Linked DNA regions of Homo sapiens. The protein of the gene in region 2 interacts with the protein of the main gene of each other region in a pairwise test. Each region holds a gene or a part of one and is shown on either strand. Other genes may lie near its edges.

Region 1 (7,455 bases), on a different chromosome or scaffold from region 2:
TCCCAGGCCCCACCCCACCCTTCCCTGGCACCCACAAATCTCAGATCTCAATGATCCTGAGGGGTAGGCGGGTGAAGGGGAGAGGGGGGAACTACAACCCCAGTGAATCTCGGCGGCCGCTGGCTTTCAGGTTAGCCTAACTGCAAGCCCGGGGTTTGAAGGGAAATTTATTTTAAACCTGACTCGAGGCTGGGCACGATATCTCACACCTGTAATCCCAGCACTTTGGGAGGCCAAGGGGGGCAGATCGCCTGAGGCCAGGAGTTTCAGACCACTCTGGCCAACAGTGAAACCCCGTCTCTACTAAAAATATAAAAATTAGCTGGGTGTGGTGGCAGGCGCCTGTAATCCCAGCTACTTGGGAGGCTGGAAGAACAAGAATGGCTTGAACTAGGGAGGCGGAAGCTGCAGTGAGCCAAGATCGTGCCACTGTACTCCAGCCTGGGTGACAGACCAAGACTATGTCTAAAATAAATAAGATAAATAAATGTAAAATAAAATAAAAATACATTTTTTTTGAGGCGGAGTTTTGCTCTTGTTGCCCAGGCTGGAATGCAATGGCACAATCTTGGCTCACCGTAATCTCCTGCCTCAGCCTCCTGAGTAGCTGGGATTACAGGCGCCCACCACCACACCAGGCTAATTTCTGTATCTTTTCTTTTCTTTTTTTTGAGACAGAGTTTCACTCTTGTTGCCCAGGCTGGAGTGCAATGGTGTGATCTCGGCCCATTGCAACCTCTGCCTCCAGGGTTCAAGTGATTTTCCTGCCTCAGCCTCCTGAGTAGCTGGGATTACAGGTGCCCGCCACCACGCCTGGCTAATTTCTGTATCTTTTCTCTTCTTTTTTTTTTTTTTTTTTTTTTTTTAAATCACTGCTTACTGCAGCCTGGACCTCCTGGGCTCAAGCGGCCCTCCCACCTCAGCCTCCCAAGTAGCCGAGATTGCAGGTGCTTGCCACCACGCCCGGCTAATTTTTGTATTGTTAGTAGAGATAGGGATCTTGCCATGTTTCCTGGGCTGGTCTAGAACTCCTGGCTCAAGCCGTACTCCCACCTCAGCCTGCTAAAGTGTTGGGATTACAGGCATGAGACACCACCCCCAGCCCTGAATTCCTTCTTAATCTGGATCTTACCCTGCAGCGGTTTCCACAGCACCCAGCACCACAGCAGCCCTTGCCCCCTGCCCGAACGGCTGCAATCCCCGGACACAGTACCTGTGGGACAAGAGTCATTGTTATAGCACGTCCCCCCAGATCCTCCAGGCCTGACTTGCATCAGTGCCTACCTCCTTCAGGAAGCTGCCTGTGATGCCTTCAGCCCTTTGGACTGTAGAAGACCTTATCTCTACGTCTCCTGGAGCTGCTGGGCTTCACCTTACTTTATCCTTATTTACGTGCCTACCTTATCTCTGTCCAGATTGTGGCCTCTAGAGGGTAGGGCCCAATATCATTATTTTCCCCAATCTTGGCACATAGTAGGTGCCCTACTGAATGGAAATCAGGGAAACTACTTCACATGCTATGAATTGATTCATCTCTCAGGGTCTCAGTTTTGCCTGTATAAAATGGGTCTGGAAGATCTACCTCACAGGTCTGTTCTCAGGATTTAATGGGAGAACAAGCTGACTAGGTGTTAAGACTGGCTCAGAGGCCGGGCGCGGTGGTTCACGCCTGAAATCCCAGCATGTTGAGAGGCTGAGGCTGGTGGATCACCTGAGGTCGGAAGTTCAAGACCAGCCTGACCAACATGGAGAAACCCCAACTCTGCTAAAAATACAAAATTAGCCGGGCGTGGTGGCGCATGCCTATAATCTCAGCTACTCGGGGGGCTGAGGCAGGAGAATTACTTGAACCTGGGAGGTGGAGGTTGTGGTGAGCTGAGATCGTGCCACTGTACTCCAACCCGGGCAATAAGAGCGAAACTCCATCTCAAAAAAAAAAAAAAAAAAAGACCAGCTCAGAGTAACTCAATATTTATAAGTTCCCTCAGCAGCAGGAAGGGATAGAGGTGTTGGAGTGTCTGGTGAATTGGGATTACAGTAGAGTGTGGAAGAGTGCTAGTGGATGGTCTGATATGGAGTGTAGCATTTTCCAAGATTCAAGCCTTGGTCTTTTTTTCTCCCTGTGGCTTTCCTAACAATGCCCATCCCCTTTCAGGGAATCAGCTCTTCACTCTGCCAGAAGTTGCCTCCAAAACTGATGCCTCCAGATCCTATGTTCACTTGAATATCTTGGTTTTAGCTCAAATTCAACCAGCCTCACGCTCATCTCACAATATTCCTCAAATTCATCTCCCTTTGACTTTCTTGTCTCCATCAGTGGAAAAAATAACATCTACTAGGTCAGCCAGGCTGGAAAGCTTTAATCTTGCACCCAGAAAGACATCAAATTTTCTCAACTTTTACTTAAGTGGCTCCTGAATCTGTGAGTTCCTCCCCACATTGAATCCCTCATCACCTCCCATGAGGGTGTTCTCAGCCTCCCTATTACACTCTCATAGCTCTTGCCCCATGCCACCCTACACTCTATCCTCTATCAGGTTAAACATAGCTTTTTTTTTTCTTTCTTTCTTTTTGAAACAGGGTCTCACTCTGCCACCCAGGCTGGAATGCAGTGGCTTGATCGTGGCTGACTTTAGCCTTGACCTCCTGGGCTCAAGTGATCCTCCTGCCTCAGCCTCCTGAGTAGCTGGTATCGCAGGCATGCGTCATCATTCCCAGCTAATTAAAAAAAATTTTGTAGACATGGGGTCTTGCTATTTGCTCAGGCTGGTCTTGAACTCCTGGGCTCCTCCTGCCCTGGCCTACCAAATTGCTGGGATTACAGGTGTAAGTCACTGCATCTGGCCTAAACATAGCTTTCAACTGGTCTTTTCTCTGCTCAAATCCTTTAGGGTCTCTTCACAGAGAAGCCCATCAAGACTGAACTCTTTTTTTTTTTTTTTTTTTGAGACGGAGTCTCACTCTGTCACCAGGTTGGAGTACAGTGGTGTGATCTTGGCTCACTGCAACCTCCACCTCCCAGGTTCAAGTGATTCTCCTGCCTCAGCCTCCTGAGTAGCTGGGACTACATGCACATGCCACCACGCCGGGCTAATTTTTTGTATTTTTAGTAGAGACGGGGTTTCATCATGTTGGCCAGAATGGTCTTGATCTCCTGACCTCGTGATCCGCCTGCCTCAGCCTCCCAAAGTGCTGGGATTACAAGCGTGAGCCACCGCGCCTGGCCAAGACTTGTAACTTGAACGCCTAACTCTTGTAAGGCATTTAAGCCTCCTCATCTGGCTCCGTTACCTTTATCTTCGTTGCACCAGGTCAGGTTCTTTGCCTGTCTCCTATCTCTGGAATTCCACAGCTGTCTTGCTTCTTGCTTTCGTGTGTGTGTGTGTTTGCTTTTTGAGACAGGATCTCACTCTGTCATCCAGGCTGGAATGCAGTGGTGCAATCATGGCTCACTGCATCCTCAACCTCCTGGGCTCAAATGATCTTCTCACCTCGGCCTCCCGAGTAGCTGGGACTAAAGGTGCGGAACAACATGCCTGGCTAATTTTTTTGGAGAGTTCATGTCTTACCATGTTGCCTAGCTGATCTCGAACTCCTGGGCTCAAGCAATCCTCCTGCTTCAGCCTCCCAAATTGCTGGGATTACAGGCATGAGCCACTGTGCCTGGCTCCTCATGTGTCTTATCTGGCACATACCATCCAAGGCAGCATTTTGTGCTTCTCCAGGGAAAGGGCTGAGAGTTTCAGTTCTATTATATCATCCCCAGCAACCTCAGAGAAACACCTGCTCTCTCTTCTTCCTGTCTCATGGCAGGGCCAGGACCCATGCTGACACCTTACTTTACCTCCCTGGTTAGGTCACTTACTGGAGGCTTGTGGATCCAAACACACCTAGAATTGCCTTTTGGATTTACCAATTTTGAATGATCTACTTGTCTGAGGTTTCTGCTTTTGTTTGAGAGAGGGTCTCACACTGTTGCCCAGACTGGAGTGCAGTGGCATGATCATGGCTCACTGCAGCCTCGACCTCCTGGGCTCAAGTGATCCTCTCACCTTAGCATTAGAGTAGCTGGGATTACAGGCTTGTACCACCACACTCAGCTAATTTTTTCTTTTTTGAGACGAAGTTTTGCTCTTGTTGCCCAGGCTGGAGTGCAATGGCGCGATCTTGGCTCGCTGTAACCTCTGCCTCCCGTGTTCAGGTGATTCTCCTGCCTCAGCCTCCCGAGTAGCTGGGATTACATGCATGCGCCACCACGCCCTGCTAACTTTGTATTTTTAGTAGAGACAAAGTTTCTCCATGTTGGTCAGGCTGGTCTCAAACTCCTGACCTCAGCTGATCAGCCTGCTTCGGCCTCCCAAAGTGCTGGGATTACAGGTGTGAGCCACCGCACCTGGCCAGACCCAGCTAATTTTAAAATTTTTGTTGAGATAGAGTCTCACTATGTTGCCCAGGCTGGTCTTGAATGCTGGGACTCAAGCGATTCTCCTGCCTCCACCTCCCAAAGTGTTGGGATTTTACAGGCATGAGCCACCACACCTGGCCCTATTTGAGATTTTTACTCTTTTGATTAAAGTGTTTGCTTCCCTTTGTAGTATGTGCTTCTCTGTCTCATTCTTCACCATCTTTTTGTCTTAGTGAAAAGTGTCATCATAAATGAAGAAGAAAACACTGTGCTTATAGCCTGAATCAGCTCATATTTCTCCATTTCCATAGCCACTGGCCTAGTCCAAGCCACTCTCATCTCTCCTGGATGTCTTCCGTGACCTCAGTTTGGTCTTTTCTTTTTCTTTTTTTTTTTTTTTGAGATGGAGTCTTGCTCTGTCACCCAGGCTGGATTGCAGTGGCATGATCTCGGCTCACTGTAACCTCTGTCTGCTGGGTTCAGGAGATTCTCCTGCCTCAGCCTTCCGAGTAGCTGGGATTACAGGCATGCACCACCATGCCCTGCTAACTTTGTATTTTTAGTAGAGACGGGGTTTCGCCATGTTGGTCAGGCTGGTCTCGAACTCCTGACCTCATGATCCGCTGGCCTCGGCCTCCAAAAGTGCTGGGATTACAGGCTTGAGGCCCCACGCCCAGCTCAGTTTGGTCTTTTTCTGTATATATTGCAGACCTTCTACTACCCATTCTCCACACAGTGGTCAAAGGAGTCTTCTTCATTCCAGTGGCGTGTGGAGCAACCAGACCTCTCACACTAAGAACTACAGAAAACTGGCAATATCTATTAGCGCTGAATACTTGCATGTCTTAAGAATCAGCAGTTTTACTGCTAGGTTTTTATCCAATAGAAATGCACACGTATTTGTACCTAAATACATCTACAAGAATATTTATAGCAGCATTATTTGCAAAAAAACCAAACTGGGAATGATCCAGATCTCCTTCAACAGTAGAATGGGCCGGGCACAGTGGCTTATGCCTGTAATCCCAGTACTCTGGGAGGCCGAGGCAGGCGGATCACCTAAGGTTGGGAGTTCAAAACCAGCCTGACCAATATCGCGAAACCCCGTCTCTACTAAAAATACAAAAATTAACTGGGCACGGTGGCACATGCCTGTAATCCCAGCTACTCAGGAGGCTGAGGCAGGAGAATCATGTGAACCTGGGAGTCAGAGGTTGCAGTGAGCCGAGATGGCGCCATTGTACTCCAGCCTGGGTGACAGAGCGAGACTCTGTTTCAAAAAAAACAAAAAAGCAAAAAAGCAAAAAAACAAACAAACAAACAGTAGAATGTATAAATGAGGTATAGTCACATAATAGAATGTATAAGAAAAAAAGAAAACTACAGCTACACCTGATAATATGGGTGGCTCTCACAAACGTAATATGGAGCTAAAGAAGCCAGACACAGGCCAGGCGCGGTGGCTCACGCTCGTAATCCCAGCACTTGGGGAGGCCGAGGTGGGTGGATCACCTGAGGTCGGGAGTGCGAGACCAGCCTGACCAACATGGCGAAACCCCCATCTCTACTAAAGTAAATACAAAAATTAGCCAGGCGTGGTGGCTCATGCCTGTAACCCCAGCTACTCTGGAGGCTGAGGCATGAGAATCATTTGAACCTGGGAGGCGGAGGTTGCAGTGAGCTGAGATAGCGCCACTGCACTCCAGCCTGGGCAACAGCTCCGTCTCAAAAAAAAGCCAGACACATACTCTATCATTCCATTTGTGTAAAGTGCAAAATAAGCCAAACTCGTCTATGGGGTTAGAAGACAGAATAGTGGTTACGCTTGTTGGTGAAGTGATTCTGGGGTTCCGTGTGTGGTGAGAAGCATGTCTGGGCTTCTGGTAATGATCTGTTTCTTGACCTGGGCTCAGATGTGCTCACTTTGTAAAAGTTTGTTGAGCTGTGTACTAAGGATCTGGGTACTTGTCTGTGTGACTTAAATAAAAAGTTTTAAACCGTCAAAAAACAAAGTGCCAAAAGTCCTTCAATAGGGCATGGCGCGGTGGCTCACTCCTGTAATCCCAGCACTTTAGGAGGCCGAGGCGGGTGGATCACAAGGTCAGGAGATCGAGACCATCCTGGCTAACACGGTGAAACCCCATCTCTACTAAAAATACAAAAAAAAAAAATTTGCTGTGCGTGGTGGCGGGCGCCTGTAGTCCCAGCTACTCGGGAGGCTGAGGCAGGAGAATGGCGTGAACCCAAGAGGTGGAGCTTGTAGTGAACCGAGATCGCACCACTGCACTGCAGCCCGGGCGACACAGTGAGATTCCGTCTCAAAAAAAAAAAAAAGTCCTTCAATAGTTTTCTGTTGTACTTATAATAATAAAAATTCAAATGACTCCACTGTGGCTTTTCAGGGTGTTCCAGGCCTAGCCTCTGCCCTCCTCAGACCTCATCTCATTACATCTCACCTCACCGGCCACCTGTCTGATCCTCAGAAGTGTAGAGCTTGTTCCCACCTTAGGCTTTGTACTACCAGCCCCTAGTGTCTGCAACACTCACACCTTCTTCTTGTCATTTGGGTCTCAGTTCAGACATCACCTCATAGAGCCTGTCCCTGAAAATCCTATAAAAAGTGGCATCTGCTTTGCCTAGGAGCTCTTCATGCCAGCACCATTTCATTTTATTTTTATTTTTTACTTTTGAGACAGAGTTTCACTCTTGTTGCCCAGGCTGGAGTACAATGGTGCAATCTTGGTTCACTGCAACCTCCGCCTCTCGGGTTCAAGCAATTCTCCTGCCTCAGCTTCCTGAGTAGCTGGGACTACAGGCATGCGCCACCACGCCTGGCTAATTTTTGTATTTTTAGTAGAGACAGGATTTCTGCATGTTGGTCAGGCTGGTCGTGAACTCCTGACCTCGGTGATCCGCCTGCCTCAGCCTCCCAAAGTGCTGGGATTACAGGCATGAGCCACTGCGCCCGGCCGATGGTACCTACTTCTATCTGAAATTGCCTTGCCTAGTTCTATACTTCATTCAATGACTTTTTTATTTTTTATTTTCTT
Region 2 (7,455 bases):
TTCCTTTTATTCTGCTGTAACAGAATACCTGAGACTGGGTAATTTTAAAAGAACAGAGATTTATTTCTTATAGTTGTGGAGACTGGGAAGTCCAAGGTCAAAGGGCCCACATGTAGGGAGGGACTTCTTGCTTATCACAACATTGTGGAAGGGCCAAAGAGTACGTGAGAGAGGGTAGGGGAAAGGAAGGGAACTGAACTCATTCTTTTACCAGGATCCCACTCCTATGATATTAACCTGCTCCCAAGATAACGTCATTAATCTGTTTGTGAACTCAGAGCCCTCATGACCTAATCACCTCTTAAAGGTCCCACTGTTGGGACTGTTGAATTGGAGATTTTCTTCCAACACATAAACTTTGGGGGACATATTCAAACCACAGCACTAGTATATATAATATGTCATATTGATCCCTATATCCACATATTTGCTCTATAAGTGCTCTATTTACATATTCATTGAGTTGACCTATATAGTACCCAGCATATTTAGGTTTTGCGGTAGAGAACAAATAGTAAAAGATTCAAAGATTCTGTATGCTAACTAGAGAGATAAAACTAAGTTTAACACCTCTGCTACCATTTCTCAAATATCACAGAATTAATAAGAAAAATAGCAGAAATTAAATGTTCAGTCACTTGGCTTTTCAAGTACTTCCCACAAGATTAGATTAACGGCTGGGTGAGGTAGCTTATGCCTGTAATCCCAACTCTTTGGGAGGCCAAGGCAGGTGGATCACCTGAGGTCAGGAGTTGGAGACCAGCCTGGCCAACATGGTGAAATCCTGTCTCTACTAAAAATACAAAAATTAGTCAGGCATGGTGGTGCACACCTGTAGTCCCAGCTACTCTGGAGGCTGAGGCCAGAAAATTGCTTGAACTCAGGAGGTGGAGGTTGCAGTGAGCCGAGATCGCACCACTGCACTCCAGCCTAGGCGATAGAGTGAGACTCTGTCTCAAAAAAAAAAAAAAAAAAAAGATTAGATTAACAGTATCTCCAGAAATGGTTACCATATGTTACTACATTTTAAGTTCCTTTCAGAACCATAAGTATAGAGGAGTTAGTGGAACCAATGATAAATCTGGATTTTTTTTCTTCTTTCTTTGGATCTGTGCCTGAAATGGCAAATTATGTGCAATTTGGGGCACAGTGTCACTTATGATTTCAAGGAGCCTAAGAATCAGCAGAGGGATACAGTCTTTTGATAAAACTCTGCCTGGTCTTTTCATTTTGGATAGTATATTACTGGAAACTTCAGAAGAAAATGAGGGAGTTTCAGAAAGGAACTGAAGAGGTTGATGACTGAAAAGGATGATTGAACACCAAAATCTGCAGTTGATTAGGATGCAGACGTGGAAAGGAAGCATGTATATAAATAAAAGGGTATGTTACTAAAATCCGCAAAAAGTAGAATGAGGCAAAATATCTCCATTGTCATGATGTTCCATTTTATACTGAGTTGGATAAGTCTCATAAGGGATCTGATAGTTGAGGTCACTAATCCTTAATACATGAACCAAGGAATAAGAATTCTGTTTATCATAGGAAATAACTTGGGCCCATAAGGAAGGAGTAGAGACTCTTCAGGAGAGGGACATTTTAGTCCATAATTTCTCTGATTTAGTGCCAAAAGCTTTTTTGAGAGACTATTCAAAGCTGTCTTAAGTTTCATTGTTGGAAATTGATAGCTGCTGTATTTCTTTTTAATAACTGTTTTAAGTTCTTTCTGTTTTGTCTTCTCGGTTGCTAAATTCCTGAAGATTACAAAAAAAGTGTGCTTAAAGTAAAAGTGTTATGAGACAAAAGCTTTATTCTGTGGATAGGATAATACTTCTTTTGTAACATTTTCTGTTTGCACCAAAAGTGAGAAGTCAATGCCTTGCCTTTGTGCATCCCATTACTAATGGAGGATAAGAAGTTATTTTCTTCAAAGGCTGACTTCCAGAATTTTTGGCTGAACACTTTTTGTCAAGTGTATATTCCCTTTGTAGGCCTTTCTGTATAGAGCCCACAAACATCGTGAATGTGAATCATGTCATTCAGAGGGTTAGTGACCATGCCTCTGCCATGAACAAGAGAATTCATTACTACAGCCGGCTCACCACTCCTGCAGACAAGGCACTGGTAAGAGACAAAACATTACTAATAGTCTAAAATTCAGTTGAAATGAACAGTGAACAATATAAGCCAGGGCACCTCCCAGTGATTGAACTTCTTTCTGACTGTATTTCAAGGACAGCATCATGCAAAGTCAAAGATAGTAATTAACACACATCCTACATCTCAGGCCAGTTCATTCTTATCTAAATTTGAAACAATGTTTCTATGTTGACAACAACCTGGAGATTTTTTTGGATTAAATTCTCCTGATCCCCATTCCCCAAATCTCTGAGGAGGATAAATTACTTTTGAAATGGCAAGTTAGGCCATTGACTAATAGCAAATAATAACATGTTCTGCTTAGTGTGGACAATTTTAACTTTGAAGCTGTAAGGGAAATATTTTTTTAGAAATTTTCTACAAGAATGGGAAACTGGCCAAGCACAGTGACTCACTCCTGTAATCTCAGCATTTTGGGAGGCCAAGGCAAGAGGATCACTTGAGCCCAGGGGTTCAAGACCAGCCTGGAGAAGATGGTGAAACCCTGTCTCTACAAAAAAAAATTTTTTTAATTAGCCAAGCATGATGGCTCGCACCTATAGTTCCAGCTACTTGAGAGGCTGAGACAGGAGGATCCCTTGAGCCCAGGATGGATCCCTTGAGGATGCAGTGAGCTGTGATTGTGCCACTGCATCCCACCCAGACTGAGCAAAAGAGTGTGACCCATCTCTTTTTTTTTGAGATGGAGTGTCGCTCTATCACCCAGGCTGGAGTGCAGTGGCGCAATCTCGGCTCACCACAACCTCTGCCTCCTGGGTTCCAGCCATTCTCCTGCCTCAGCCTCCTGAGTAGCTGGGGTTACAGGTGTGCGCCACCACACCTGGCTCATTTTTGTATTTTGAGTAGAGACACGGTTTCACCATGTTGGCCAGGCTGGTCTTGAACTCCTGACCTCGTGACCCACCCACCCTGAGGTGCTGGGATTACAGGCGTGAGCCACTGTGCTCCCAAAGTGCTGGGATTACAGGCGTGAGCCACTGTGCCCGGCCATGTGACCCCATCTCTTAAAAAAAAAAAAAAAGAAGAATGGGAAACTGAAATATGTACACATAAATATAGTAGTTTCTTATTTAGCATTATTCTTTTATTGATCAAAACCAGGAGTCAAAGAGCCAGATACTAAATGTCTTAGACTTTGAGGTCACATGATATTCTTCATTTTGTTTATGATCATCAAAATTATAAATTATAAAATTTATAAAATTATAAAAACCATTCTCAGGAAAGAGGCTGTATAATAATCAGGTTGAAACCAGATTTGGCCTATGGGCCGGAGTTTGTTGACCCTTGATCTTCTAAAAATCTCTATTACTATTTTAGGATAAAAAATATATATAAGTAATTTGGTAGTTTATAAAAACTACCGCATATGAGATAGTCAGAAACTTGCAAGTTTAACTGAAAATAAGAACATTCTGGGAGAAAACAGGATTTTGAAATTAGTATTATTAATAAAAAGAAGAGAACCAACATTCATTAACATTTAATAAGGACCAGTGATTGGGCATCACTGGAATGTAGCTATCTCATTTAAGCCTAAACAATAGCTATGTGAAATAAATATTAAGATTTCCTCTTGTATGGCCAAAATAGGGATTTCCAAAATGTTCTGGGTAGGATAATTTTTTTCCCAATTTTTTTTTCGGCTTTTTCCCCTTAGGCCTTGACATCAGTAGTTGTGGCGAAGTCTTAGTTCCATAATGGAATTACTTAAGCCCTTGGAGGAGTAGAGATAATCCTGTATCTCTGGGTCTAGTTGAGACCTTCTAGAGGCTCTGCTCTTGGAAACAAACCTCCAAGATCCCAGATGAGCAAGTTTATACCTGCATGTATATTGTTTGCCTGGAAATAGAGTCAGCATGTGCACCAAAGTTGAATGCCATTTGTTAACTGACACTGAGATGAGTCTAGGAAGTCAAAATATATAAACAGTGATGTAAAATTGACAATGATATAACCATTCTTAATGAATGTGTGTATACATCCACACTCGTTTTCTGAAAATCCCAAAACTATTTTGGATTTTTAAACTCTTGCTTTTTTAGTTAGATTTTCTATATTTGAAAAATAATTTTTAAATTCACTAATCAGGGATGCATAGTACTTGCATCCACACTCGTTTTCTGAAAATTCCAAAATTATTTTGGGTTTTTAAAACTTGCTTTTTTAGTTAGTTTTTCTATATTTGAAAAGTCATTTTTTAATTCACTAATCAGAGATTCATAGTACTTGTTTATGATAGTTAAAATGTGTCTAGAGGGCCAGGCGTGGTGGCTTACGCCTGTAATCCCAGCACTTTGGGAGGCCGAGGCGGGTGGATCATGACATGGTCAGGAGATCGAGACCATCCTGGCTAACATGGTGAAACCCCGTCTCTACAAAAAAATACAAAAAATTAGCCAGGCGTGGTGGTGGGCACCTGTAGTCCCAGCTACTCGGGAGGCTGAGGCAGGAGAATGGCGTGAACCCAGGAGGCGGCGCTTGCAGTGAGCCGAGATCGCGTCACTGCACTCCAGCCTGGGCGACAGGGCGAGACTCCGTTCAAAAGAAAAAAAAAGGTGTCTAGAGTCAGGTGTTCTGATGTGTAACAAATATCCTATTTTGCATTTCCTGGTTCTGAAATTTATCTATGTTTCCTTTTTACCAGATTGCCCCAGACCATGTAGTTCCAGCTCCAGAAGAGTGCTATGTGTATAGTCCATTGGGCTCTGCTTATAAACTTCAAAGTTACACTGAAGGATACGGTAAAAACACCAGTTTAGTAACCATGTGAGTGAAACTGCTTTTTGGAGCATGACTTAAACTGTATATGGATGAAAATTACTGGTTTTTTAAATTTTTGTCTCAATTAAAATGTTTGAAGAGTGAAACTCCATTTTTTTACTGCTATTACTCTGTGTTTTCAGTTTTATGATTTGGAATACCATGATGGGAACATCTATACTAAGCATTCCTTGGGGCATAAAACAGGTAATACTAATTTTTCAGCACACTTTTTGCCTAAATGTTTTTCTCTTTATATTGTAAGTTTTATAACAGAGGTTTTAATAAATCTACATAAAATTCATTAAAGAAAATAGATGGTTATATTTAGTTTTTCATGAGTTGTCAAGTTTTTATCATGATTGTTTAGGGTAAAATAATTGCATATGAATTTATGCTTACATGATGATATATGCTGTTTTATACTTTTATTTTTAAACAGGCTGGATTTACTACTGGAATGTGTGTCATCATACTGATGGGCCTTTTAACACTTTATTGCTGCTACAGAGTAGTGAAATCACGGACTATGATGTGTAAGAATTTGACACAGTGACAATAGATTATGGGTATTAATAAGCATTTCCCTTTGAGGCAGATCACTAGTGTGTATATGCTACATGTGTGTCAGCTGTCTACTTTGTACCTAAAGATTTACTTCTGTAATTCATCGCTTTCAGCTAAATTGATTTGCTAATAATATTTAGTGGCTGCTTTTGAAATTCAGAGAAGCTGGGAGTTATTTGCAGAGTGCATTCACTTTGGTGCTAGTTTCTTCATAAGAATCATTTAAAAACTCATATTTATAAAATAATGTCTTTGCCAAAACTAAATTGAGAATTCTGTGCTTCCTGTCAGTTAATGGTGACTTGTTTTGACCTATTCATACCAAAAGATCTAAATGTTAGAATCTGCTAAAAGTAGAAATTATAACTAGAAAAATATGAAAATGTAAGCAACTCCCTAGTAATGAATATTTGAAGTTGTGTGAACACCTTACCTCTACTCGTATCTACAAATTCTGGATCAGGGAAATATCTTTTTTAGGTTGTTTTAAAGTAGTCTAGGACCTAAACAAACATGCATTATTTCATTAAATCTTAGCAAGTATGAATCAACAGGCCAGACTTTGCCTCCAGTTTTTTTCTGTGCCTACTAAGCAGCTTCCTTCTTTATGTTAACCAGATCTCCTATTAGTCACTGGGCAAGTATTTGTTTAAAAGTCTTGAGAAGCCAGACCTGGTGGTGTGTGTCTGTAGCCCTAGCAACTCAGGAGGCATAGGTGGGAAGATCACTTTAGCCCAGGAGTTTGGGGCCAGCCTTGGCACTGTAGCAATACTTCATCTTAAAAAATAAAAAATAAATAAAAAATAAAAAAGTCTTGAGAGAAGATTCATTCTGGTTTCTAAATGGTAAGAGGAGATAATTTTAGCCTCTGGTTTCTAAGGCAAATTGTGGCTGAACTTGGAAGACTTCTTTAAATGTATACAGTAAGTTCATGTCTTATCTAATTCAGCATCTCATTTAAAATTGGAACAGAGCCCCCACAGAGTTCTCTCTATAACTGTTTTTTCTTTTATTTTCCTTTTTTTTGGAGACAGGATCTCACTGTCACCCAGGCTGGAATGCAGCAGCGCTATCACAGCTCACTGCTGCCTGGACTTCCCGGGCACAGGTGATTCTCCCACCTCAGCCTCCCAGGTAGCTGGGACTACAGGTGCATACCACCATGCCCAGTTAATTTTTTGTATTTTTCATAGAGACAGGGTTTCACCATGTTGCTCAAGTTGGTCTCGAACTACTGGGCTCAAGTGATCTGCTCACCTCTGCCTCCCAAAATGCTGGGATTATTGGCTCTATAACTGTTAACTTCCATGTTATTAAACTACTCCACACCATTTAAAAAGAAGAGAGGCTGAGGCACGAGAATTGCTTGAACCCAGGAAGTGGAGCTTGCAGTGAGCCAAGATTGTGCCACTGCACTTCAGCCTGGGTGATGGAGTGAAACACTGTCTTAAAATAAAATAAAATAAAATAAAAATAATAAAAAGAAGAACTTCCACCAATTCATTTTACAAAGTCCACACACCCCTAACACAAAGCCTGACACTACCAAAAAGAAAGAAAATAATATAGAAACGTAAAATTTATTTGTAAAACATTATCATATAGAATCCAACAGTATATCAAAACATATCCTGTGCCTAAGATAAGGTTTATTCCAGTAATGCAAGGATGTTTCATTATTAAGAAATCCAACATAATTCACTACATTAACAAATTAAAGAAAAATTCATAATTACATCAATAGATATCAAAAAGGCACTTAATAGAATTCAGCACCTGTTTCTGATTAAAACTCTAAGTGAAAAGCACTACTTAAAAATAGCAAAGTCTATTTATTCCCAGACAAGTACCGGCACCATTCTAAAATTATGAAATGCTAAAGCAGTTTTCATTAAAGTCAAGAAAACATAGAAATATTCATAATTAATCAGTTTTTTTTGGAGATATTGTCAAATGCAGCAAAAA
Region 3 (8,413 bases), on a different chromosome or scaffold from region 2:
CAATAAAGTTATCTTTTTATTTATTTATTTATTTGTCTATTCTTTGAGAAGGAGTCACATTCTGTTGTCCAGGCTGGAGTGCAGTGGTGTGATCTCCATTCACTGCAACCTCCACCTCCCGGATTCAAGCGATTCTCCTGCCTCAGCCACCTGAGTAGCTGGGATTACAGGCACATGCCACCACGCCTGGCTAATTTTTATATTTTTAGTAGAGACGGGGTTTCAAAGTGTTGGCCAGGCTGGTCTTTAACACCTGACCTCGTGATCCGCCTGCCTCGGCCTCCCAAAGTGCTGAGATTACAGGCGTAAACCACTGCGCCCAGCCTAAAGTTATCTTTAACTTCATTCTGTGGTTTTATTATTACTTTTTCCTTTTTTTTTTTTTTGAGACTGAGTCTCGCTCTATCATCCGGGCTGGAGTGCAGTAGTGCGATCTTGGCTCACTGCAACCTCTGTCTCCCAGGTTCAAGGCCTGAGCCTCCCGAGTAGCTGGGATTACAGGTGCCTGCCAATATGTGCAGCCAATTTTTGAATTTTTAGTAGAGACAGGATTTGGCCGCTATCGGGGGAAATTCACCCCCAATATTTCACATAGCTTCTTTTCTATATTCCCTAAGAGTCGGCCGGTCTGAGAAATAAAGGGACAGAGTACAAAAAAGAGAAATTTTAAAGCTGGGTGTCCAGGGAAGACATCACATGTCGGCAGGTTCCGTGATGACTAATAAAAACCAGCAAGTTTTTATTAGTGATTTTTTCAAAAGGGGAGGGAGTGTACGAATAGGGTGTGGGTCACAGAGATCACATGCTTCACAAGGTAATAAGATATCACAAGGTAAATGGAGGCAGGGCGAGATCACAGGACCACAAGACGGGACAAATTAAAATTGCTAATGAAGTTTCGGGCACGCATTGTCATTGATAACATCTTATCAGGAGACAGGTTTGAGCAGACAACTGGTCTGACCAAAATTTATTAGGCGGGAATTTCTTCGTCCTAATAAGCCTGGGAGCGCTACGGGAGACTGGGGCTTATTTCATCCCTACAGCTTCGACCATGAAAGACGGCCGCCCCACAAAGCGGCCATTTCAGAGGCCTACCCTCAGGGACACACTCTCTTTCTCAGGGATGCTCCTTGCTGAGAAAAAGAATTCAGCAATATTTCTCCCATTTGCTTTTGAAAGAAGAGAAATATGGCACTGTTCCACCCGGCTCACCGGCAGTCAGAGTTTAAGGTTATCTCTCTTGTTCCCTGAACATTGCTGTTATCCTGTTCTTTTTTCAAGGTGCCCAGATTTCATATTGTTCAAACACACATCCTCTACAAACAATTTGTGTTAACACAATCATCACAGGGTCCTGAGGTGACATACATCCTCCTCAGCTTACCAAAATGACGGGATTAAGAGATTAAAGACAGGCATAGGAAATCACAAGGGTATTGATTGGGGAAGTGATAAGCGTCCATGAAATCTTCACAATTTACATTCAGAGATTGCAGTAAAGACAGGCGTAAGAAATTATAAAAGTATTAATTTGGGGAACTAATAAATGTCCATGAAATCTTCACAATCCACGTTCTTCTGCCATGGCTTCAGCCAATCCCTCCGTTTGGGGTCCCTGACTTCCCACAACAGGCCACGTTGGCCAGGCTGGTCTCAAACTCCTGAGCTAAAAAATTAGCCGGGCGTGGTGGCAGACGCCTGTAGTCCCAACTACTCGGGAGGCTGAGGCAGGAGAATGATGTGAACCCGGGAGGAGGAGTTTGCAGTGAGCTGAGATCACGCCACTGCACTCTAGCCAGCCTGGGCGGGAAAAAAAAAAAAAAAAAAAGAGAGAGACAAACTCAATAGAAAAATGAGAAAAGAGTTGAACTGGGCCGGCATGGTGGCTCATGCCTGTAATCCCAGCACTTTGGGAGGCCGAGGTGGGTAGATCACTTAAGGTCAGGAGTTTGAGACCAGCCTGGCCAACATGGTCAACATGGTGAAACCCCCTTTCTACTAAAAACCCAAAAAAATTAGTCGTGCCTGGTGGTGCGTGCCTGTAATCCCAGCTACTCGGGAGGCTGAGGCAGGAGGATTGCTTGAACCTGGGAGGTGGAGGTTGCAGTGGGCCGAGATCGCACCACCGCTCTCTAGCCTGGGCAACAGAGGAAGACTATCTCAAAAAAAAAATAAATAAATAAGCCAGTTGCAGTGGCTCATGCCTGTAATCGTAGCACTTTGGGAGGCCGAGGCAGGTGGATTGCTCTGAGCTCAGGAGTTCAAGACCAGCCTGGGCAACACGGTGAAACCCCGTCTCTACTAAAAATACAAAAAAAAAAGCCGGGATGGCAACGTGCCCCTGTAGTCCCAGCTACTTGGGAGGCTGAGGCAAGGGAATTGCTTGAATCCAGGAGGCGGAGGTTGCAGTGAGCCAAGAGCGCACCATTGCACTCCAGCCTGGGCAACATAGCAAGACTCTGTCTCAAAAAAAAAAAAAAGTTGAACTGATACTTCACAAAAGATGATATCCCAAAAGCCAAACCTGTCTGAAAATGTGATCAACCTCATTAATATTTAGGTAAATGCAAATAAAAACTACAATGAGAAGCCATCGCATATCCAAAAACTTTACCCTAAAAGTGTGGCAATACTGGCTGGGCATGGTGGCTCAGGCCTGTAATCCCAACACTTTGGGAGGCTGATGCAGGCAGATCACGAGGTCAAGAGATCAAGACTATCCTGGCCAACATGGTGAAACCCATCTCTACTAAAAATACAAAAATTAGCTGGGTGTGGTGGTGCGCTCCTGTAGTCCCAGCTACTCGGGAGGCTGAGGCAGAAGAATTGCTTGAACCCGGGAACCAGGAGGTGGAGGTTGCAGTGAGCTGAGATTGCGCCACTGCACTCCAGCCTGGGCAACAGAACAAGACTGTCTCAAAAAAAAAACAAAAAACAAAAAGTGTGGCAATACCATGTGTTAATGGAGCTGGAGATAACTGGGAACTCTGACACATTGCTAGAGGAGTGTGAGTTGGTCCAACCAGTTTGATTTGCAGACCATAGATAAAAAAGATAGGAAACTCTCTGATTCATTTTATCTGGCAACCTGCTCTTTCTACCAAAAGCAGATAAAGAATATACCAAAAAGAAACTACAGCCCAATCTCATTTATCATAATAGATTTTAAAAATTCTAAATAAAGCAGTAAAACAAATGGGTAGTATAATTTGTTCCAGCAGATTTTATTCCAGAAACACAAAGATGGTTAAATATCAAGAATACTGCCACCATAATTTATTACATCAAAATCTTTTTTTTTTCTTTTGAGACGGAGTTTCATTCTTGTTGCCCAGGTTGGAGTGCAATGGCACAATCTCAGCTCATTGCAACCTTCGCCTCCTGGATTCAAGGATTCTCCTGCCTCAGCCTCCCCAGTAGCTGGGATTACAGGCATGCACCACCACACCCACCTAGTTTTTTTTTTTTTTGTTTGTTTGTTTTGTATTTTTAGTAGTGATGAGGTTTCACCATGTTGGCCAGGCAGGTCTCGAACTCCTGACTTCAGGTGATCCACCCGCCTTGGTCTCCCAAAGTGCTGGGATTACAGGTGTGAGCTACCACGCCCAGCCTTGAAATTGCTGTTTCTAACAAGTCTTAAAAGACACCCAGACTTTAACAATTGTTATTATATTCAGATTTTTTTGTTGCTTTTTGAGACAATCTTGCTCTTTTACCCAGTCTTGAGTGCAGTAGCATGATCATGGCTCACTGCAGCCTCAACCTCCTGGGCTCAAGCGATTCTCCCACCTCAGCCTCCCGGGTAGCTGGGACTACATGTGCAGTATCATGCCTGGTTAATTTTTAAATTTTTAGAGATGGGGTCTTGCTATGTTGCCCAGGCTTCTAGAATCATTCTTCATATTATTTCACTAACACAGCCTCCACCACATTAATATGGCAACAGGTTTAGAAATTATTTAAAACAAAAATTTCTAATGTTTACATATATTGTGTGATGTGTGTGTGTGTGTGTGTGTGTGTGTGTGTGTGTATCATTCCAAGGTACTGTTTCTAATTTTTTCCTGTAGGGAATGAATATTCAGTATTGCAGCTGCATTGGCTAGCTGGGGATTCTATTTACCACCACATTGTCCCGGACTGAATCTGGGGACAAAAAAACCACTTCGGGAACAAATTCTTGTCTTCAACAAAGAGCTGTCTTGAGTAGGCACAAAAGTAGCATTTGAGGGCCGGACGCGGTGGCTCAAGCCTGTAATCCCAGCACTTTGGGAGGCCGAGGCGGGCGGATCACGAGGTCAGGAGTTTGAGACCAGCCTGGCCAATATGGTGAAACCCTATCTCTACTAAAAACACAAAAATAGCCGGGCGTGGTGGTGGGCGCCTGTAATCCCAGCTACTCGCGAGGCTGAGGCAGGAGAATTGCTTGAACACGGGAGGCGGAAGTTGTATTGAGCCAGAGATCGCGCCATTGCACTGCAACCTGGGCGACCGAGTGAGACTCCGACTCAAAAAAAAAAAAAAGTAGCATTTGAGTACCTTTTTTTTCCTTTTCTTTTCTTTTTTTTTTAGAGGAAGGGCACCCAGGCTGGAGTGCAGTGGCACCATAATAGCTCACTGCACTCTGCAACTGCTGAGCTCAAGAGATTCTCCTCCATCAGCCTCCCTAGTAGCTGGAATTACTGGCGTGAGGCACCATGCCCGGCTTATTTTCTTATTTTTTTGTAGAGGTGGTTGGAGCGGGGGGACTGGGGAGGGTCTCGCTATGTTGCTCAGGCTCGTCTCGAACTCTTGCCCTGAAATGATCCGTCCTCGGCCTCGCAAAGCGCTGAGATTACAGGCGTGAGCCACGGCGCCCAGCCTTGAATAGTTTTTCACATGCATTGCACGTTATTTCCTTTTATTCTCTAGTTTTTGGGTCCAGTCTTAAACCTGGGAAGGGATTCATTTGGGGGGGTCACACCAGCGGGCATCCTGGCTCAGGCGGAACTCTGGCTCCAGACAGTGCGCCCAGGACCAAACGGTCAACCCCGGCCTACTCCCGCCCCTCCCAGATCCTCCCCTCCTCGGACGCTCCCGCGTCTTCCTCTCGCTCAGGCACTGAGGGGCGGGGAGATGGGTGTTAAAGAGGGGATATCACCAATCAACGTGCGCCTCCGGGAAACAGCGCTTCGCACTGGCTGGTTGGGTCTGACGACGTGGCCACTGTCCAATCCTCATGCTAGAGGCGGGGCTAAAGGCCAGTGGCGCAAGCAGAAGGAGGAGCGCAGCGGCTGCAAGCACGTGACCGGGGCCTGAAGCCGGAAGCTACCTATCTGGTAGGGAGCTCCCCCAGCACCGAAGACTGCGATGGTGAGTGAGGACGCATGCGCGAGAGGACCCGCCGGGGGTTCAGCGTCTCTGCTCCCCAGTCTGTGTGGTTTCCCCCTGGTGGGCCTGCGCTCCACCCTCACCTCCTATCCGCTCGGGGAGGAAGAGGGGATGGAAATGGGAGGGATGGCGACGAGAATGCTGGGGAGGGGTCTGTGGGAGGGTGTTCTGGGGCTGCGGGTAGTCTGCAGGTCGGGCGGAGACGAAGGGAGGTGAAGAGAGGGTCTGGGGGCAGGGGCCAGTGGGGCAGCAAAGGCCCCTTGGGGTAGCAAAGGTGGGATGTGGAAGGCCAGGGGAGCCCGGGGGCGAGAGTGGGGGCAGATGGAGGCTCGGGAAGATCAGTATTGAGGACCATGTAGGGGGGAGGGGGCCGGGAAGGGACCTGGCTGGGGAATGAGAAAACCTGGGGCCATCGTCAACCCAGAGACTTGGGTTTGCAGGTGAAGGGTATCGGGCCGTCCATCCCTCTAGCATGCTTCTCACGACTTGCATCTTTACCCACTAGACTTCTGCGCTGACCCAGGGGCTGGAGCGAATCCCAGACCAGCTCGGCTACCTGGTACTGAGTGAAGGTGCAGTGCTGGCGGTGCGTTCTGGGAAAGGGAGGGGGTCCCTTAGTGCACACAGCCCGGTAACCCCTTCTAATATTGGCCCTTCTTTTCTCGGCTTTTATCTGGTTTCCTGCCTGGCATCTATTAGGTTGGTACAAAAGTATTTGCAGTTTTTGCAATTACTTTCAGTAATCAGTCTGTGGAATCTTAGTCTCCTAACGGCTGCGATTTATTTATTTATAGTTTTTGAGACTGAGTTTCGTTCTTGTTGCCCAAGCTGGAGTGCAGTGGTGCGACCTCGGCTCACTGCAACCTCCGCCTCCGGGGTTCAAGCGATTCTCCTGCCTCAGCCTCCCGAGTAGCTGGGATTATAGGCACGTGCCACCATGCTCTGCTAATTTTTTGTATTTTTAGTAGAAACGGGGTTTCACCGTGTTAGCCAGGCTGGTCTCAAACTCCTGACCTCAGGTGATCCACCTGCCTCAGCCTCCCAAAGTGCTGGGATTACAGGCGTGAGCCAACATGCCTGGCCTTTATTTGGTATTTCTTAAAAAGGCATTTGTATTTTGTTCCATAGTACTGTATGGTGTTAGGTCTCTAGATTACAGGCGTGAGCCACCACGTCTGGCCTTTATTTGGTATTTCTTAAAGAGGCATTTGTATTTTGTTCCATAGTACTGTATAGTGTTAAGTCTCCAGATGTTTTTGACTTAGGTAGAGACAAAGCTTAAGGTTAAGGGTTGAAAACAATACAGGTGGTAAAGACTATTGAGGGAATCCAGGATATTAAAAATTCAACATGTTATGACAAGGTAACTAACTTTCCGGGAGGTAGGAATTCAGCCCACCTTAAAGGAGAGTATTTACAGTGGGGGAGGACTTATTTGCAGGTGTGTGGCACTAACCTATCTGAACTGATGGTAAGTTTATGCTGAAAAGATTTGGGAAGGTTTGAGGGAAGAGAGGAGGATATGGTCAGGGAGGATGTAATTGTGAAGGATCTTCAAGGCCAGGTTAACACACTTGAACTTATTCTTGAAGGTAATACAGTTTGAAAGGTTTTTTAAAACAGAAACAAGACCCAGTGAGGTGGTTGAGCAATATTGTTGTTAGTGATGTGAAGATGGGCAGAAGGAGGCGTCATTAAGAGATGAGACTGGGCTGGGCGTGGTGGTTCATGCCTGTAATTCTAGCACTTTGGGAGGCCAAGGCGGGCGGATCACGAGGTCAGGAGATCGAGACCATCCTGGCCAACACGGTGAAACCCCGTCTGTACTAAAAATACAAAAACAAAATTAGCCAGGCCTGGTGGCGGGCACTTGTAGTCCCAGCTACTCGGGAAGCTGAGGCAGTAGAATGGCGTGAACCTGGAAGGTGGAGGTTGCAGTTAGCCGAGATCACACCACTGTACTCCAGCCTGGGCGACAGAGCAAGACTCCGTCTCAAAAAAAACAAAAAAAAAAAGAGATGAGACTGGGCAAGTGGTGGTAAGAAGGAGGAGCAAGGAGAGAAGAGTTTTGTTTTTGTTTTTTTTTGTTTTTGTTTTTTGAGACAGAGTCTCGCTCTGTGGCCCAGGCTGGAGTGCAGTGGCATGATCTCAGCTCACTGCAACCTCCGTCTTCCGGGTTCAAGTGATTTTCCTGCCTCAGCCTCCTGATTAGCTAGGATTACAGGTGTGCACCACCATGCCCAGCTAATTTTTGTATTTTTAGTAGAGAGAGGGTTTCACCATGTTGGCCGGGCTGGTCTCGAACTCCTGACCTCATGATTTGCCCGCCTCAGCCTCCCACCCAAAGTGCTGGGATTACAGGCATAAGCCACTGCACCCGGCCTGTTTTTTTGTTTTTGTTTTTGTTTTTTTTGAGACGGAGTCTCACTCTGTCACCCAGGCTGGAGTGCAGTGGTGCAGTCTCCCCTCACTGCAAGCTCCGCCTCCCGGGTTCACGCCATTCTCCTGCCTCAGCCTCCCTAGTAGCTGGGACTACAGGCGCCCGCCACCATGCCCGGCTACTTTTTTGTATTTTTAGTAGAGATGGGGTTTCACCATGTTAGCCAGGATGGTCTGGATCTCCTGACCTCGTGATCCGCCTACCTCGGCCTCCCAAAGTGCTGGGATTACAGGTGTGAGCCACAGCACCCCGTCCTGTTTTTTTGTTTGTTTGTTTTTTTTTAAGATAGAGTCTCGCCGTCACTCAGGCTGGAGTGCAGTGGTAACGATCACATCTCATTGTAGCCTTGAACTCCTGGGCCCAAGCAATCCTCCCGCCTCAGCATCCCAAGTAACTAGAACTACAGGCAAGCACCACCACGCCCAGCCATTAAAAAAAAAAAAAAAATGTGTGGAGACAGGGGCCTTGCTATGTTGCCCAGGCTGGTCTCAAACTCCTGGCCTCCAGCATTCCTCCTGCCTTGGCCTCCCAGAGTGCTGAGATTACAGGCATGAGCTCCTGTGCTTGGCTGGAAGAAGTTATTTTAAAGGAGGAATCAGT

Evidence for each region. The genes of interacting proteins can lie anywhere in the genome.
Region 1: the proteins of SLC38A9 (region 2) and TM4SF5 interact in binary tests that used the Homo sapiens proteins (3 or more experiments, as listed by UniProt).
Region 3: the proteins of SLC38A9 (region 2) and LAMTOR4 interact in binary tests that used the Homo sapiens proteins (3 or more experiments, as listed by UniProt).

Annotation. Positions count from the first base shown.
Region 1 is NC_000017.11:4,774,547-4,782,001, reverse strand, and holds part of TM4SF5 (transmembrane 4 L6 family member 5), read right to left. Parts: intron 1,214-7,455; coding exon 1,133-1,213; intron 1-1,132. UniProt on the Homo sapiens protein: Acts as a lysosomal membrane arginine sensor.
Region 2 is NC_000005.10:55,667,232-55,674,686, reverse strand, and holds part of SLC38A9 (neutral amino acid transporter 9), read left to right. Parts: intron 1-1,991; coding exon 1,992-2,124; intron 2,125-4,807; coding exon 4,808-4,929; intron 4,930-5,066; coding exon 5,067-5,130; intron 5,131-5,365; coding exon 5,366-5,459; intron 5,460-7,455.
Region 3 is NC_000007.14:100,143,621-100,152,033, forward strand, and holds the start of LAMTOR4 (ragulator complex protein LAMTOR4), read left to right. Parts: upstream 1-5,297; 5' UTR 5,298-5,352; coding exon 5,353-5,355; coding exon of another isoform or gene 5,356-5,433; intron 5,434-5,878; coding exon 5,879-5,959; intron 5,960-8,413. UniProt on the Homo sapiens protein: As part of the Ragulator complex it is involved in amino acid sensing and activation of mTORC1, a signaling complex promoting cell growth in response to growth factors, energy levels, and amino acids.